Linked DNA regions of Homo sapiens. The protein of the gene in region 1 purifies or fractionates together with the protein of each later gene. This does not show direct contact. Each region holds a gene or a part of one and is shown on either strand. Other genes may lie near its edges.

Region 1 (3,820 bases):
GTAGGTGGGATTACAGGTGCCCGTTACCATGCCCAGCTAATTTTTGTATTTTTAGTAGAGACGGAGTTTCACCATGTTGGCCAGGCTGGTCTTGAACTCCTGACCTCAGGTGATCCACCACCTCAGTCTGTATGTTCTTCTCTGGATAGTATGAGGAAGTCATAAGCCAGGTAGGGTACAAACCTAATCCCCTCCAGCTGCCTCAGCTGATTAACCTACTTGCATTTCTGCACCTCTTGCTATAAGCAGATTGTTCTTCTCAGTCCATTAGCATAGACTTCCAGGAGTTCTGATGATATACCTACCGGGAGCCAGCGACCAATGTCTCCTGTGTGAAGCCAGCCATCACTGTCCAGGGCTTCCTGTGTCTTCTCAGGGTCCTTCAGGTATCCTTTGAACACGTTTGTACCCTTGATGCAGACCTGCACAGCAGACATACAAGGCGGTGACAATAGCAAAGGCTGCTCCTCCCAGCGTGGGCAGTTTATGAAACACCTGCTCCCCTTAAATCATTTGATGGCTTCCACTACACTGTGAAGAGCACCAGATCTAAGTCTCCACTATAGGGGATAGGAAAGTGAAGTTCAGAATGCTTAATTCTTTGCTAACAATCTCAAAGGGGCCAAATCCAAGTTTGCTTACAATTATTTGCTCTTTCTGATATAAACCTCCCCACCATGACTGTCTGACCACAGGGCATGACCTACCCACCTCTCCTTCATTATTCACTGTAAAGTAGTTCATGTCAGCCACATCTTCCAGCTTCACGTAATTGCAAGCCAGGGGCACCCCAACGTGACCTAGAACATACCGTGCTGAATTAGCTGAGAAACTCTTGCATGGTGATAATTCCAGGCACATTTCTAAGATATTTATGAATTGACTCTAGAAGAGGAAGACTGAAAAATCACCTGGCACCAATGCAGACTAGCCAAGATAGGCAGGCCTGGACCCAAAACTTGAATTTTGCATTTGCCACATTAGTCCAGAGAACTGAAGTTATCTAAACTCCAAAGTCCTAGTTCAGTTAGAACCTTTCTCCCAACCATGGCACCTCCTGCCCAGCAGATGGAGGACTTACCTGATGTCCAGTCCCCAGGTAATGTAAATGTACAGCCACCTGTGCATTCTGTTTGACCATAAGCTTCATACACCTGGGAAACCAAAGAAGAGCTTTTAGACTTACTCAAGATAAAGTGTGAGCTGGCCACGTGCTATGGTCAAGACACGAGGAAAGCAAGGTCTCTAAGGGTTCGAGACCACTTAGTGTCTTAAAACCTTGAACTTGGAGGGGGCGGTGGCTCATGCCTGTAATCCCAGCACTTTGGGAGGCCGAGGCGGGAGGATCACCTGAGATCAGGAGTTTGAGACCAGCCTGGCCAACATGGTGAAACCCCATCTCTACAAAAACACAAAAAAAATTAGCTGGGCATGATGGCAGGTGTCTGTAATCCCAGCTACTTGAGAGGCTGAGGTGGGAGAATCTCTTGAACCTGGGAGGCAGAGGTTGCAGTGAGCTGAAATCACGCCATTGTACTCCAGCCTGGGTGACAGAGCGAGACTCCGTCTCAAAAAACAAACAAACAAACAAACGAACAAACAAAAAACCTTGAACTCATACCCAAGCTGCAAAGTATTTACTACCAAGCCTTCTGGCCATTCAGAAACCAAAAGGGTCTGGAAATAGACCAAAGCATAGAACTTTATATGAAAATGCAGCATTTTGGCCAGGCATGGTGGCTCATGCTTGTAATCCCAGCACTTTGGGAAGCCAAGGCGGGAGGATCACCTGAGGTCATGAGTTCGAGACCAGCCTGACCAACATGGTGAAACCCCATCTCTACTAAAAATACAAAAATTAGCCGGGCCTGGTGGCACATGCCTGTAATTCCAGCCACTCAGGAGGCTAAGGCAGGAGAATTGCTTGAACCCAGGAGGCGGAGGTTGCAGTAAGCCGAGATTGTGCCATTGCACTCCAGCCTGGGTGACACAGTGAGCGAGACTACATCTCAAAAGAAAAAAAAAAGAAAAAAAAGAAAAGAAAATGCAGCATTTCAAGTAGGTGGGAACATGTAAGTTATTCACTAAGTGGTGTGCAACCCAATAGCAATTGAACTTGACCCTGAGCAATGGAGCATCACTGAAGGAACTGAAGAAGGGGAGTAGTATTTTTTAAGGGAAATAGCCCCCACTATGATATAAAACAAGGGTGGGCAAACTTTATCTGTACAGGCCAAGATAGTAAATATTTTCCACTTTGTGAGCCATCTGGTATCTGACTCAAAACTTGACTCTGCCAAAATAGCACAAAAGCAGCCACAGTCCATATATAAATGGATGGACATAGCTGTATTTGAATAATATTTTTAAAATAAAAACCAGCTGCAGACTAGTTTTAGCCAGTGCTACAATTTGCCAATCCTTGGTATAGAAGATAATCTTGACTGGAGAGAGGCTGGGGGCAGGAAACAAGTTCAAGGGCTGCTGCAATGGGGGGTGTGGCCTGTGATAGGCAGAGTTGGGAGAGAGAGGAAGGCTTAGAGAAGACATTTCGGGAAGGAGTTAGCAACAGGACCTGCTGATCTATTGGTTTTAGGGGCTTAAGGAAAGGACAGTATTAAAAATGGCTAAGAGGATGCTAATTTGAAGGACCTCAGGCCTTGGCATCATTCTGGAGTCTCTTTTGATTGTGGTTATACAGATAGGGGACTCATGAGGAAAAGTCTATGCCTGTTTTGTTCATGCTCTGCATGGTTGGTTGAATGAATGAACTAATTATCCATCTGGGTGAAAATTGAGACAATATGCATGGCCAAGCACTTGGACAAATTTCAGGTGGAACTGAGACTTAAAAGGAAAAAATGGAAAATGGTAAGTTTGCCAGAAAATAAGGGTGAAACAGTCTTATGAAATATTGGGGGTTAGGAAGTCCTGTCTAAGCAGTTTAAAACCTACAAATAGAAAAGATTATTTAGTTTGACTATAAAAACATTGGAAATTTTTATATGGCAATACACAGGGCAAAAATGATGAGACCAGGAAAAATGTTTCCAACATGACAAAAGTTAATATTACAGGTTGACTATTCTAATCCAAATGTTTGAAATCCAAAATGTTCCAAAATCCAAAACTTTTTGAGTGCCAACATGATGTTCCAAGGAAATGCTTTTTGGAGCATTTCAGATTTTGGATTTTCAGATTCAGAATGCTCAACTGTTTTATAATGCAAACATTACAAAATTGGAAAAAAATGCAAAATTCAAAACACTTTTAGTCCCAAGCATTTCAAATAGGGAGATACTCAACCTGTATTACTCTGTGAAGAACTCTTAGAAATATAAAAAAGGACCAAATTATCTTTTGCCTGTTTTTCTATAAGGAAGTAATAGAATAATTCATGGATAAAATATACATGTCAATAAGCAATAGAAAGATGTTTGGTGTAAATAAAAGAAACAAAACTGTAATAAGATTTTTCATTTATCTGATTAGCTAATATCTGAATGACTGATAAAGTCTGTCACTGGCAAGAGCATGGGCAAATAAGGCCTTGTATACTTGCAGAAATGTGCAAAAAAGATCTTTCTGGAAGAAAGTTTGATAATATACATTATTACACACACACACACACACACACACACACAGATACATTGTGTGTATTACTTTGACCCAATAATCCCTTCTTGCGTGGATTTATTCTAGATTATTAATTGATTATAACAATGAAAAATATCATAAGCAACTCAAGTGTCCATTAATAGGAGATTAGTTATTTGGGTACGGTTGACCCTTGCACAACACAAGTTTGTATGGCACAGCT
Region 2 (3,820 bases), on another chromosome or scaffold:
CTTTCATTTCTGCAGTCCTTCCTTTTGCCTGGACTGCCCCCTACCCACCACCCACGGCTGCTGTCCCTGTGCCATCTCTACTTGTCACATTCTTACCTGTTCCTTAGCAGCCCAGCCAGAACCACACACAGCACGCTTCCCCCAGCCAGGAGGTTCTGTGCCTCCTCTCAGCTTTCAGAGCCCTGGCAAGACTGTGCTTATCTCCTGCAATGCATTTTCCCTTGGAAACTTTGTGAAGTATCGTGCACATGCTTTATCTCTCCCCTTAGATTAAAAATCCCTGGAGAGATTAGAGAAATGTTTGCTCCTCCACACAGCCCTGGCACCATGTCTGCATGGGGCACAGATTCATTGAGCAGGAGAGGAGGGCTTTTTACCAGGCTCACCTTTGAGCTGACTTGGCAGCTCCACTGGCCTCCTCTGTGGGCAGAGGGGAGAGGCTGCCTGTTGGAAAAAGTCGAAGTGGAGGAACAAGTTTCATTTTCCAAGGCTCAAGGCTGTTAGCCTTTTGGCTTTGGTTGGTGTGAGAGTGGGTGTGTTTGTTTCTGTGAGTGTGTGTTTCTGGGTGTGTGTTTGGTAGGTGTGAGTGTGTGGTGGGTGTGTTTGTTTCTGTGAGTGTGTGTTTCTGGATGTGTGTGGTAGGTGTGAGTGTGTGGGGGGCGTGTTTGTGTGTGCATGAACACGTGGAGTAGAAGAGGGATGTGTGTGTACGTGTGTGGGGTGTTGGTGTGTGTGTATTGTTTGGGTGTGTAGTCTTGGACACCCTATTAAAAAAGGACAAGAGTCTTCATCTGACTTTGCTTGGGGACTTATCTTTATCTGCAGGAAATAACCAAGAAGTGGAAAATGGAGCAAAAAAAAAAATCTGAAAATACAGTGACCAGGTGATAAAATCAAACGGCAGCTTGTCTCTCTTGGAGCACAGTTGATCTATAAAAATCAGCCACTCGCCCTGAAACTTCCTGGGGGTGCCTTTGAGGTTTAGCAGCCACCCTGCCCTCTCTCTGGAGAACCACGCAGGCTGTGGGCAGAAGGCTTGTGGGGCAGCCAGGCCCCTGCCTTGTCCTGACCGAGCATGGGACCTCCTCATCTCTGGGGCAGGGTGGGGGCAGGTCCTATCAAACTCATTTTTTAATTTTTTATTTTTTGGGGGATGGAGTCTTGCTCTGCCGCCCAGGCTGGAGTGCAGTGGCACGATCTTGGCCCACTGCAATCTCCGCCTCTCAGGTTCAAGCTATTCTTCTGCCTCAGCCTCCCAAGTAGCTGGGGTTACAGGCACATGCCACAATGCCTGGCTATTTTTTGTATTTTTAGTAGAGACGGGGTTTCACTATGTTGGCCAGGCTGGTCTCCAACTTCTGGCCTCAAGTGATCCTCTGGCCTTGGCCTTCAAAAGTGCTGGGATGACAGGCATGAGCTATCATGCCCGGCCTCAACCTCATCTTACAGAGCCTCTGAAGGCTGAGCTAGGAATGTGGGCATCAGCTCTGAATGCAGGGAGCCCACATTCTTTCCTTTTACCCCGCTCTGAGAATGAGAGAGCTGGCAAAGCCAGTTACAATCTGCCCGTAAATCGTGAATGTGTCTGGAATTGACATATAGGCCAAAGGTCGTAGGCTGTAGGGGAAGTGAGACGAGCTGCTTTTCAAATATTTTTTGGCATCAGAAACTTGTGTTCATGTAAAGTCTTACGTGCCAGTTTAATGTGCAAAGCTGCTGAGAGCTCCACTGTTCTGGGTGAAATGTGTGTTACGGGGTGGGTAGGGCTGCTGGACTCCTGTCCCCTCACTCTGCCCCTCACCCCAGGCCCAATTCCCTTCCAGGGACATTGGCAGAACACAGTTTGAAACCTCCCTTGGAAACCACATCTTTTTTTTTTTTTTTGAGACGGAGTCTGGCTCTGTCGCCCAGGCTGGAGTGCAGTGGCGTGATCTCGGCTCACTGCAAGCTCCGCCTCCCGGGTCCACGCCATTCTCCTGCCTCAGCCTCCCAAGTAGCTGGGACTACAGGCACCCGCCACCATGCCCGGCTAATTTTTGTGTATTTTTAGTAGAGACAGGGTTTCACCGTGTTAGCCAGGATGGTTTCGATCTCCTGACCTCGTGATCCGCCCGCCTCAGCCTCCCAAAGTGCTGGGATTACAGGCGTGAGCCACCAGGCCTGGCCGGAAACCACATCTTTAACTCTAAAGGGAAGTAAAATGATTCGCCCAAGGCCATGGGGTGGAGGAGGGTTGGGCAGCCCCATAAGTGAGCAACGTCCTGAACAGCAGGACTCAGCACACACGAATCTGTCACTCTGGGCCATCCCTGAAATGTGTCAGGGGATGGAGATGCAGTAAAGAATACAATAAAGAACATATTAAAACTTCTAAAGTTTCTTTGAACCAGGACAAAACTCTAGCATTCTGGAGCAGCATTCAGTCTCATATCTACTGAAAAATCCTAATGTTGTACATTGCCATTAGAACTGATCGTAATGCGTCAGGGCCTCACCCTCTGTAATGTGCTGGCTACCTGCATCGTGACTGACGCTTTATTTAGTCATCACTTGCATAGTGCTGAACAAATATTAATCCACCTAATCTGGGCAACATCTTTATGACGTAGTGGCTATTATTAGCACCATCTCCATTTTACATATTTGGAGTAATGGGGCACGGAGAGGTGAAGTAACTTGCCCCAAGTCACGTTGCTAGAAAGGAATAAAACTGGATTCAAGCCAGAGTCTAGGTATGGCCCATGCTCTTCAACGCCGGGCTATTGAACTTCTGTTCAATGAGGGAAGGCTGTTCAGGGCACGGAGCCTCACACTGGGGACTCTGTGTTGTTTGGGTACTTGTCTTGGCTCCCCAAATGGGTTTCAGCCGGTAATAATCATAACCATAATAACCTATACTGTGGCCGGGGTGGTCTCTTGGAAACACAGGTCCAATTATGTTAAGCCCCTGCCTCTGCTTATATCTCTTCAATGGATTCCTTTTTACTGTTTTTTTTTTTTTTTGAGACGGAGTCTCGCTCTGTCACCCAGGCTGGAGTGCAGTGGTGCGATCTCGGCTCACTGCAAGCTCCGCCTCCCGGGTTCACGCCATTCTCCTGCCTCAGCCTCCCAAGTAGCTGGGATTACAGGCGCCTGCCACTGCGCCCGGCTAATTTTTTGTATTTTTAGTAGAGACAGGGTTTCACTGTGGTCTCGATCTCCTGACCTCGTGATCTGCCCACCTCGGCCTCCCAAAGTGCTGGGATTACAGGTGTGAGCCACAGCACCCAGCCCTCAGTGGATTCTTATTGTTCTTCAAGTAATGACCAAAATCCTTCAGAGGGCCCTCGAGGCCCTGCCAGATCTGGCCTCTGTCTACCACAGAGCCCTAACCCTCACCGACATTTGCTCTCTGCCCTTCAATCTCCCTGTCGTCTTTTATTTCCTGTTATCCCAGGACCTTTGCCCAAGCCATTGCCTCTCCCTGAAAGACTTTCCATTCACCTCCCACTCTTCCTTTGGCATTCAGCATAATATCACCTCCTCCAGGAAGCTTTCCCTGACTCCATCTTCTGAGTCAGTTTCTCTATTGAATATTCTTGTGGCAGGATGCTCCTCTCCTTCCTAGAGCAGACCTGACTTTGTTATTGTACTTTTGTAAGTGTGAATCTTTGGTGAGTGTCTGTCTTTCTCACCTGATGGTAAACTCCCTGAGAGTAGAGCCCCCACGTCATGTGTCTTTTTTTTTTTTTAATTGAGACAGGTCTCACTCTGCCGCCCAGGTTGGAATGCAGTGGTGCAATCTCTGCTCACTGCAGCCTGTGCCTCCTGGGCTCCAGCA

What was found.
Region 2: the proteins of ACSL5 (region 1) and TMEM238L purify together in Homo sapiens (co-immunoprecipitation; one study listed by IntAct). This does not show direct contact.

The regions. Positions count from the first base shown.
Region 1 is NC_000010.11:112,418,927-112,422,746, reverse strand, and holds part of ACSL5 (long-chain-fatty-acid--CoA ligase 5), read right to left. Parts: intron 1,155-3,820; coding exon 1,082-1,154; intron 801-1,081; coding exon 712-800; intron 423-711; coding exon 306-422; intron 1-305. UniProt on the Homo sapiens protein: Catalyzes the conversion of long-chain fatty acids to their active form acyl-CoAs for both synthesis of cellular lipids, and degradation via beta-oxidation.
Region 2 is NC_000017.11:10,798,066-10,801,885, forward strand, and holds part of TMEM238L (transmembrane protein 238-like), read right to left. Parts: intron 1-3,820.